Regions from separate parts of the Homo sapiens genome. Here region 1 is reported to be linked to region 2. The links are microRNA targets in miRTarBase. Many come from high-throughput screens and were not tested one by one. Region 2 holds a microRNA gene; the other region holds the end of a gene's coding sequence.
Evidence for each region. The annotated mature microRNA hsa-miR-1249-3p reads ACGCCCUUCCCCCCCUUCUUCA and lies in region 2 at 1,550-1,571, opposite strand. An mRNA with a match to its seed (bases 2 to 7 or 8) in the 3' UTR can be bound and repressed. Matches are read on the target gene's strand: a 7mer-m8 pairs with bases 2 to 8, a 7mer-A1 pairs with bases 2 to 7 and ends in A, and an 8mer does both.

Region 1: the mRNA of LTBP3 is a reported target of hsa-miR-1249-3p. The part of its 3' UTR that is shown has no 7-base or 8-base seed match.

What each region holds. Positions count from the first base shown.
Region 1 is chr11:65,535,370-65,539,692 of GRCh38, reverse strand. It overlaps LTBP3 (latent transforming growth factor beta binding protein 3), which reads left to right. Exons shown (of 28, transcript NM_001130144.3): 26 at 65-145; 27 at 234-365; 28 at 462-1,134. The coding sequence ends at 613. It overlaps SCYL1 (SCY1 like pseudokinase 1), which reads right to left. Exons shown (of 18, transcript NM_020680.4): 10 at 4,311-4,323; 11 at 3,552-3,740; 12 at 3,359-3,434; 13 at 2,943-3,107; 14 at 2,565-2,707; 15 at 1,813-1,884; 16 at 1,511-1,726; 17 at 1,369-1,423; 18 at 989-1,251. The coding sequence ends at 1,127. Among named protein-coding and RNA genes, the nearest start is that of SCYL1, 12 kb to the right of the region's middle. RefSeq lists enhancers at 681-1,184, 1,185-1,689.
Region 2 is chr22:45,199,409-45,203,778 of GRCh38, forward strand. It overlaps MIR1249 (microRNA 1249), which reads right to left and starts at 1,611; the gene lies at 1,546-1,611. KIAA0930 reads right to left here. Exons shown (of 10, transcript NM_001009880.2): 7 at 3,582-3,776; 8 at 465-627. RefSeq lists an enhancer at 2,919-3,063 and a cis regulatory region at 2,991.

The DNA of each region.
Region 1 (4,323 bases), not on the chromosome of region 2:
GGAGCGAGGATGGGGGCCAGGGCCCGGGGACCCGGACGTCGCTGACCAGTTCTGCTCCTCCCAGGGTCCCATTGCCCGACATCGCAGAGCGAGAGCAATTCCTTCTGGGACACAAGCCCCCTGCTGTTGGGGAAGCCCCCAAGAGGTGAGTGCTGCCGGGTCGGGCGGTGGCGGGGTTGGTAGCCTTTGGCCGGGGCTCAGTGTTGAAGTCCATATTGTTCCGGGCCACGCAGATGAGGACAGTTCAGAGGAGGATTCAGACGAGTGTCGCTGCGTGAGTGGCCGCTGCGTGCCGCGGCCGGGCGGCGCCGTGTGCGAGTGTCCCGGCGGCTTCCAGCTCGACGCCTCCCGCGCCCGCTGCGTGGGTGAGCCGGGCTTCGGGGGTGGGGGCAGGGGCGGGGCCGGTGGTGAGGAGCCGCCTGGAGGCTCAGCGAAGCCGCACCTGTCGCCCTCACCTTCAGATATCGACGAGTGCCGAGAGCTGAACCAGCGCGGGCTGCTGTGCAAGAGCGAGCGCTGCGTGAACACCAGCGGCTCCTTCCGCTGCGTCTGCAAAGCCGGCTTCGCGCGCAGCCGCCCGCACGGGGCCTGCGTTCCCCAGCGCCGCCGCTGACGCCGCCGACGCCGCCCTCGGCCCAGACCTCGGTGATCACTGAGGGATTTCCGCGAGCTCGGCCTCACTTCTGCCCCGACTTGTGGCTCGGACCCAGGGACCTTCAGGGCCCGCAGACCCTCCCGGCGCCTTGAGACCCGAGGCGCCCCTACCGGCCCCCCTCCCCGGTTAGCGGGCGGTTGTAAGGTCTCCGGCGGGCGCTGCCTGCCTTCCTCCCAGAGGGTGTTTCCTAGAAACTGATAAATCAGATCGTGCCTCTTTACCCTTGGCTTTCGAAGCAAATTGATGTTCACGTCTGACGTGGGCGCGGGCTGCGCAGGGCGGCGCCAGACCCCAGCCGCCTCCCAGGGGCTAGACTGAGCCCGGCACAAGGGGTGTGAAATAGAATTTATTGTGGCTCTGATTATGTACACGTGAGATGGCCTGGCTGGGCCGGCCGGGCTCACATGGTTTGTACAATAAATACATCTGTGGGGCGGGCTCTCCGCAGCCGGGAAGGGCCACCGCCACGGTTCAGTCCAGCTTCCGGGCTCCCAGCTTCATGGGGCCCTTGGCCACCTTCCTCTCGGCGCGTTTGGCCTCCATCTCCCGCCGCCGCTCCTCGCGCTTCTTCCGGGCCAGCTCAGCCTTGACCTGTCCTGGCGTCAGGAAGGGGAGCCCCGGTCTCAGCTCTCCAGCCAGTGCCTGCCGGGGGCCTGTAGGGGCGGGCTAGTCGGGGAGCCCTAGTCTTCAGCCCACCCAGGGGAAGCACTTACGACTGTCAGTCTCGAGGCCCTCCCAGTTGTCCTCACCCCAAGAGTCTGGCCTCGGCTGTAAAGAGAAGTGTGGGCTGCAGTGGGGCCCACTTCTGGCTGAGGTCCACCATCTCTACCCTCTCGCCAGACCTGTGCTGGGTACCTGGGTGCTGGGACGTGCAGACAGGGTAGCGAAGGGGTCGCCCTTGTCGCTGGACTCTGGGCCACCCCAGTTATACTCGCTGGCCAGCCGTGTACCGTCAGGAGGTGGCTCCTGGGAGCTTGGCTCCTGCCAGCCCTGTTCCCAGGAGCCCTCAGCTTCCCAGCTGCTCCAGTCGGACTCTGGGGATTTGGAGGATTTGTGGTCGGAGTTGCTGACCTGTAGAAGAGCGGGAGGGGGAAGTAGCCCTGGGCCCAAGGAGGAAAGAGCCCCATACACACACCTCCCCACCAGACCCAGCTCACCTGACTAGCACGGCTCACTTGGCCCCCGGTGCTCCAGTCGTCCTGCTGGGCCAGCACAGACTCGGCCTCCTGCTGCAGTGTGGGAAGGGACCACTGACTCCCACCCCATGCTAAAGGGCAAGTGAGCCCGCCCCAGCATCATCCCAGCCACGGGCCCCACCACTGTCTTTTGCCTTCCTCCTCATTTGCTCCTCAGGCCCTGTTTCCCATCTATTAAATGGACGCTGACCCTGGCCTGCCCTCACCCCTCTTTAAGGCTGGGGAATGAGATCTAGATGCCCCTTCCAACAGCCTTGAGGGCCAGAAACTGCTGCTGTCAGCCAGATGGGGAAATTGGGCCCCCAGCTCTGCCCCATTCTGAGGACAGCCCCAGTCCTCCCTCAGCCCAACCTGAGCCCATCCCCCAAGCAGAACTGGTCTGGTTCTAGACCCAGGAGTGGCCTCTCCTTGCTGACCCCCATGGCTGGGTGGGCACTGGAGGAGGGGAAAGGGGGACGGTGTGGGTAAGAGTGAGGAAGTTCAGGGAATGCCCCAGGCACCATCTGCCTAGCCTGCTCCCTGGGGCCGCTGGGGTTGAATGGGGCCTGCTGCTGGCTCTGGCCTACAATGGCCACTCCATGAGGCCTACGTGCCAGGGATGCTGTGCTGATGAGGACAGGCCAACTCCAGCCAGGCCCCACAGAAGCTCCCTGAATGGCAGCCTGTGGATTTGAGCTGGGGTCCCCTGGGGAGGCTCCCTCAGCCCCACACACCTCCAGGCTGCCCCAGTCTTCGTCGTCCCATCTGTCAGCAGTGCTGCTGTCCTCTGCTGTGTCCTTGTCCTCCTCCTGCGTCTCCCAGTGGCCTGAGGTTGTAGGGGTGGCAGGAACAGGGGTGGGGGCTGGGGCAGGAACTCCTGGGGAGCAGAGGCTCACTGAGCTTTCAGGGGGGTCTTGGGACAGGGCAGAGGCTGCTAGGGGAAGGGGGCTACTGGGGGGAAGGGGCACCAAGGAAGCCCACAGGGTGACTGGAGCCTACCCAGCTCCTATATCCCCTTCACCATCCCCGGGGGAGTCAGACAGTAAGAGTTCCTGGGTGCCTGCAGCTCTCAGCCCTCTCAGCCACTGATGCAGCTAGGCCAGGACACTCACCTTCAGGCGTGGGTCTTTGGGGAATGTTGGTTTCTGTTGGGGCAGTGGTTGGGTGCGAACGGATCAGCTTGGAGGTGAGTGAGGAGACCCCGGTCACGGCCCAGCCTGCCCAGCTAGCTGCGGCTCCTCCCATGCCAGGGCTGGAGGCTGCATGGACATCCTTCTCTGGGCAGTGGCATGAGAGAGAGGTGGGTATGGGCACGTCAGGCACCCATGGGTGACAGGACAGCAGGAACTGACAGTGCCCTGCAGCCACCCCTCCTTTCTCCAGGCCTGATTTCTCCCATCTGTGAAGGGGGAGCTGAGTCAAGTCTGCTCACTAGGACCTTTCAGAAACTCCAGTGGGGGTGGGACACAAACAGGTCACAGTCAAGGACATGGCAGGGAAAGAGGGAACACGAGTGTAAGCCACTCACCCACTTCCTCCAGCTGGGTCGGGTCCTCCGACACAGACTCCAATTTGGACAGGAAGCTCCGAATGGCCTTGAAGGCCTGTGGGGTAACGAGGCAGAGCTGGGGTCTCTGGGGTTCCCAAGAACCTACCAGGCCAGCTAGGGGCTGACATCCCCTACAGCCCCAGCCCAGGGCCCAGGCCCAGCTGTGCCTCACCTGGTCTCGCACGGATTTCTCAGGATCTACAGTGAGACCGCAGAGCACAGGCAGGATCTTCTGGGCACAGTCGTTCATTGAGTAGAGGTTGTGGGTGGCAGCAAAGCCCAGGACACCCGCAACCCGGGACGGTGCAAACGGGTCCCTAGTGGCTCGGCTGAAGGCAGAGGTAAGGACCCTGTGTCTGGTCTACGATGGGGCAGGAAAGAGGGCTCCTGAGTGTAGGGTCAATGTTGGGACCCAGAACCACCAGCCCTTACTTCCCAGAATGGGACCACCCATAGGTCCCCAGAATCTGAAAAATATGAATGAATCACTTAAATGGGGAGAGTTGACCTAAAACTCTGGACCTGGGCTTCTCTTCCCAAATCACTGGGTTCCACACTGCCTCAGGGCATGGGACCACAACAGCAGCTGTCCCCAGGGCTCGGACACAGGCTCCCTTCCTCCCTGCCCAGCTGACCGTTCATTCCTGTTAACTGTCTGGGCACGGCAAGCAACTGAACTTACAAACCCTGGCTGAAGGGATGCACACAGGCCATGGGGCCAAGCACGCCTGGATTCAGATCCCAGATCCCTCCTGACTGTGTGACTTCGGCCAACTCACTCCTCCTCTGGGAACCCAGATATGGGGCCAACAGCGTGCAGGGTCTAAGTCTCTGGGAGAATGAAGGCCCCCACACACAAGACTCCTGGCCCTGGAGGAGGCTGTGGTCCTGCGACAGGGACCGGGCTCCAGCAGTTGTGCAGGACACTCACGCTAGCACTGAGG
Region 2 (4,370 bases):
AGCACGTGGTTCTGGGAGGCTGCACAGAGCCAGGAGGGCCAGGCCTCACCCTGAGGGCGAGCTGGCCCAAGGCAGCGCAAGGGAGGGAAGCCCTCCTCTCTCCCGCCACACCCCGTGTGTGCGGAGCCATCAGATCACCCATCCGCTTTCTTCCTTAAGCAGGCTGAAAAGCCTTAGAAAGGTGGGAAATCCCCTGAAACTGACCAACTGCTGCACATCTGCGCTCCAAGCACTCTGCCAAGGAGACGCCTGAGCCCACCAGGACGGGACCCCCAGAGGCAGCCATTTCTGCCTGTCCCCAGCTCTACCCCTCAGCTCCTGGAGGGCTGCCTGGCACATGGCACCCACTCTCTAAGTGCTGCTGAATGAACAAATGAATGAATGAATAAATGAATGAATGACTGGTCTGGATCAAGAAGAGACTGAAGGGCACGGGGACCCTAGGGCACGGAGTGGGGGGTCACCTCCACCGTCGTCCTCCCGGAAGAACTCCTCGCTGTCGTTGGCCGAGTGCGACTTCTTCATCTCAGCGATCCGGTTCCGGGGCACCTTCCTCTTGAGGGATGGGGAGAAGAAGGCAGGCCGGTTGTTCCGTTCTGGGGTGGGGGGTGTGCTGAAGGAGGTCACCTGGGAACAAGCAGCCAAAGTCACCAGAGTAGCAGAACAGCCCCCTCCCCGGGGGTCCCAACGCCCCTCCTATCCCACCCTCAAACAACCTGACACAGCTCCCAGGGAAGAGGCCGCTGGCCCAGGAGGACCCAGGCCCAGCCGGCCCGTGCTAGGTGGGGCCTAGAGACTGGAAGATGCGTTCCAGCCCAGGGGCCAGCAGGACACCTGGCCACCAGTGCTACCCGAGGAGGGGCCAGGCTGCTGCCGCAAATGGCAGAAAGACCCCCCTCCTCTGGGCCTCAAACAGTGGGTAGGGGGTGTTCAAGCACAAAGTAACAACAGCTGCTGACGCTGAGTGAGCACTGGCCCCACACACAGACCCTCTGAGCCTCCAGCTCCGTGAGACAGGGGCTAGCGTCAGCCCATCTGACACATGGGGAAACTAAGGCAGGGACCGAGACCCTGGCTTGCCTGTGGTCACCAAGCAGGACGGCAGCAGCCCTGTCTTCTGTCCCCCAGGGCCACGCTCCTCATCCTACTTCTCAGGGCTGACGTGGCCCCATCCCTCTCATTCCCAGCACCCTTCACAGGAAATACTGTGCTAAGTAGCTCTATGCCTCTGTCTTCTCCCCACTTCTAATCACGTTTGGTTCTGTTCACCAAACATTCACACCCACTCAGGGCCAGGCAGGCACAGCACTAAGGACAGACAGGCACATTGCAGGTCCCTGCCCTCAAGGAGCTCACAGTCTGCTGGGGTGACAGACTCAGAGAGTGACAACCATAGACAGCATGCTGGCTGTGGAGACAGAGAAAGAGAAGCACAGGATACATGAAGCACAGAGGCAAAAGGGATCCACAGCCTGGGAAATCAGGGAAGGCTTCCTGGAGGAGATGCCGCTGGAGCTGGGTCTTGAAGGACGAGTAGGAGTTCGCCAGGTGAAGAAGGGGGGGAAGGGCGTTCCAGCCAGAGGGAACTTGGCCCATCTCCTCCCTCCTCCCCATGCCAACAATAATCTGAGGAGCAGGATGAGCTGGGACTGAGACTTCGGGAGCCCCGTCAGCCTCCTCGTCACGGCTCCGACATCCACCAAAGTCCTGGCAGCTGCTGGGCTCCAGACGGTGTTCCCACAAGCCGGGGAAGGTTTTTAAAAGATAAAAGAAACAAACAGCAGCAACCACAATACACAGAGTCAGCATGTGTCACGCACTGGCTCCAGACGACCCCGCCAGAGAAGGAGACAGGTAATAGCAGGCGCACAGGCGGCAGTCCCCAGGGGCCAGCCCTGCTGCTGACCCTGTGTGACCCTAGCACATCCCTCCTCCTGAATCCCAGGGCTGCCCAGCTGCTAAGGCACCAGGGACTTTCACACCCCTCACAGCCACTCCCGCTGGACAGATGGGAAAACCAAGGCTCAGGCAGGTCTAGTGACCTGTAGTCACTCAGCCCTCAGGCTGTGGCTGGAGGTGGCACCCGGGTTTGTCCAGCCCAGAGCTCGGGCCACATCTTCGTAAGGACTTTCACACACACATTTTGTCAGAGTCCCAGGGCATAATTTAGGACCAGGGAGAAGAACCAGGCCCTTTATCTCGGAAACAAACTCAGAAATATAAACCACCTCATTCCAAAGACAAGAGAGGCCCCTGCCTGGAATTCTCACCCATCTTTGCAAAAAATAGCACTTGCTGTCTTTGGCTTGCAAAACACATTCATTGCAGAAGATACCTCCCCCCCAAAAAAAGATATACAGAAGAGAAAGAAAACCAACATCTGACCACCCGGAGATATGCATGATTCAGATCTTTCTCGAACTAAAAGTATAACAAACGCACACTCCCTCATCTCAGGCATGCCTGCGGTAATGCATCGTTTACATTCCCACGCCTCTGCTTTCCAAGTAGGTCAACAGCAACTACTGCAGCTGCCACCTGGGAATCCTCCTGAGGGCCAAGCCCCGGATTCCTCAAAGCCTCCCAAATACTGAAGGAGCAGGTATCCTCGTGCCCTGTTTCTAGATGAGAAAACTGAGGCTTGGAGAGGAAAAGAGACACACCCAAGGTTATGAGAGCAGCAGAGCAGGATTCTGGCTGTGGGTGGCGTCTCTCCTGGACAATGGCTGGGCAAGACTGCCCCTGGACCTGTGCCAAGGGCACCCCCCTGCCCAGCACACCTGTACTCTTCCAAGAACTACAGCTCTGGGCAGTCCCTCTGGAAGAACCAGGTAGAGCAAAGCAGCCAGTGGGCTGGAGACCTTCTCCTGCCTGTGCCCCACCAAAGGCTTCTGGGAACAAAGCTGCTGCTGACCTCAGCCTCCCGCCCTGGGGAAGGAGAGTGGCCTAGGCAGAGCAGGGCCCCAAGCCCAGTGCTATCCCAAGAGACCTTGTGACCTGGGGCAAGCTGGCAAGTCTGGTTTCCGGCTGTGCGAGGCAGGAACGCCTCTCCTGCAGCAGAACCTCCTACAAACCGCGGGGCAAAGAGCTGGGTGGCCTAGGCCTCTGCATGCGCTGGCTGACCCTCAGTCACCATCATCCCCATCTGACTCACCGGGGAAGGCCGGCCACGTGCCCACGCTCACCCAGCAGGTCCACCCAGGCAGGCGCCAGGGCCGGGCCTGGGTCCCCAGCCAGTCTCTTCTGCCCACTGGCTCTGTGGACTCAGCCTGGCTTTGTGGCATCTCAGGGAGGCAGAAAGAGCTCTGGCCCAGCACCAGCCTGCGGTGTGACCTTGGCCAGGCACAGCCCTCCAGGTCTGCAAGGCAGGAACGCCTCCCCTGCGGCAGTGCCTCCTACAAACCGCTAGGCAAAGAGAAGGGCTGGGTGGTCCGGGCCTCCGCACGCTCGGCACCTCGGCCTGCGCACTGGTGGTTGGGGATGACAACACCTATGTCCCCAGGGGGCCGTGAGCACGGGGGAGACGGTGGAAAGTGAACTTGACGGATGGGAGCCCCCGCCCCCAGCTGTGCAGCCCTTACCCGCTCGTGCATGGGCGAAGCTGGGCTGGAGTCCTCTTCAGTCCCACAGGGGGATGTGTCACCTGTAGACACTCGGCTGACCGCCATCTCGGCGTGGCCCTTGCCCTGGGGGCCCTTCATGCGCACAAACTCCATGTTGCTGTACTTGTAGAAGCCAAACGACATCTTCTGTGCCATGCGGGCGGCCACGCTCACCTGGGGGCCGGCGCGGGGCAGCCTGAGTCAGGGAGGTGGCGATGGCTCCATGGGGCCCCTCCCCAGGACATGAACAGCCAGGGCGACCATCCCTCAAGGAGCGGGGGCTGCCCGGGAGGGAGCGTCTGAGCTGGCAGGCGGGGCAGCTGGAATGGACCCACATCTCTGCCTGGTGCCCCTCCTGGTGCCCCTCCCACCGCCCCATGAACCACGGACCAGGCTGAGGACAGGGCCCCAGGCTGGCAGCAAGGCTGGCTGCGGATGGTGCCCGCTGGGGGAGAGGGGCCTGCCCACATCTGCTTGCTTAGTTGGGGGCGACTCGGAGCACTCCCAGGGCCAGTCGCAGGAAGCAAGTGACAGTGAGGAGGTGACAGCGACACCATCAGCCATCACTTCCCAGGGAACTAGAGACTGAGGAGGAAGTTCCCGCTCACATTTCAGATGAAGGCAAGTGGCCCGCATGGGCTGAGGCCGACCATGAAGAATGACGTTAAGAGGACCAGGGAGCGCCTAGAAGGAGCCCGGAGGGGCTGCAGGTACCCCTGGCGGCCGCTACCATGCACAAGCAGGCTGGGGGGCCCCATGGTATGGACC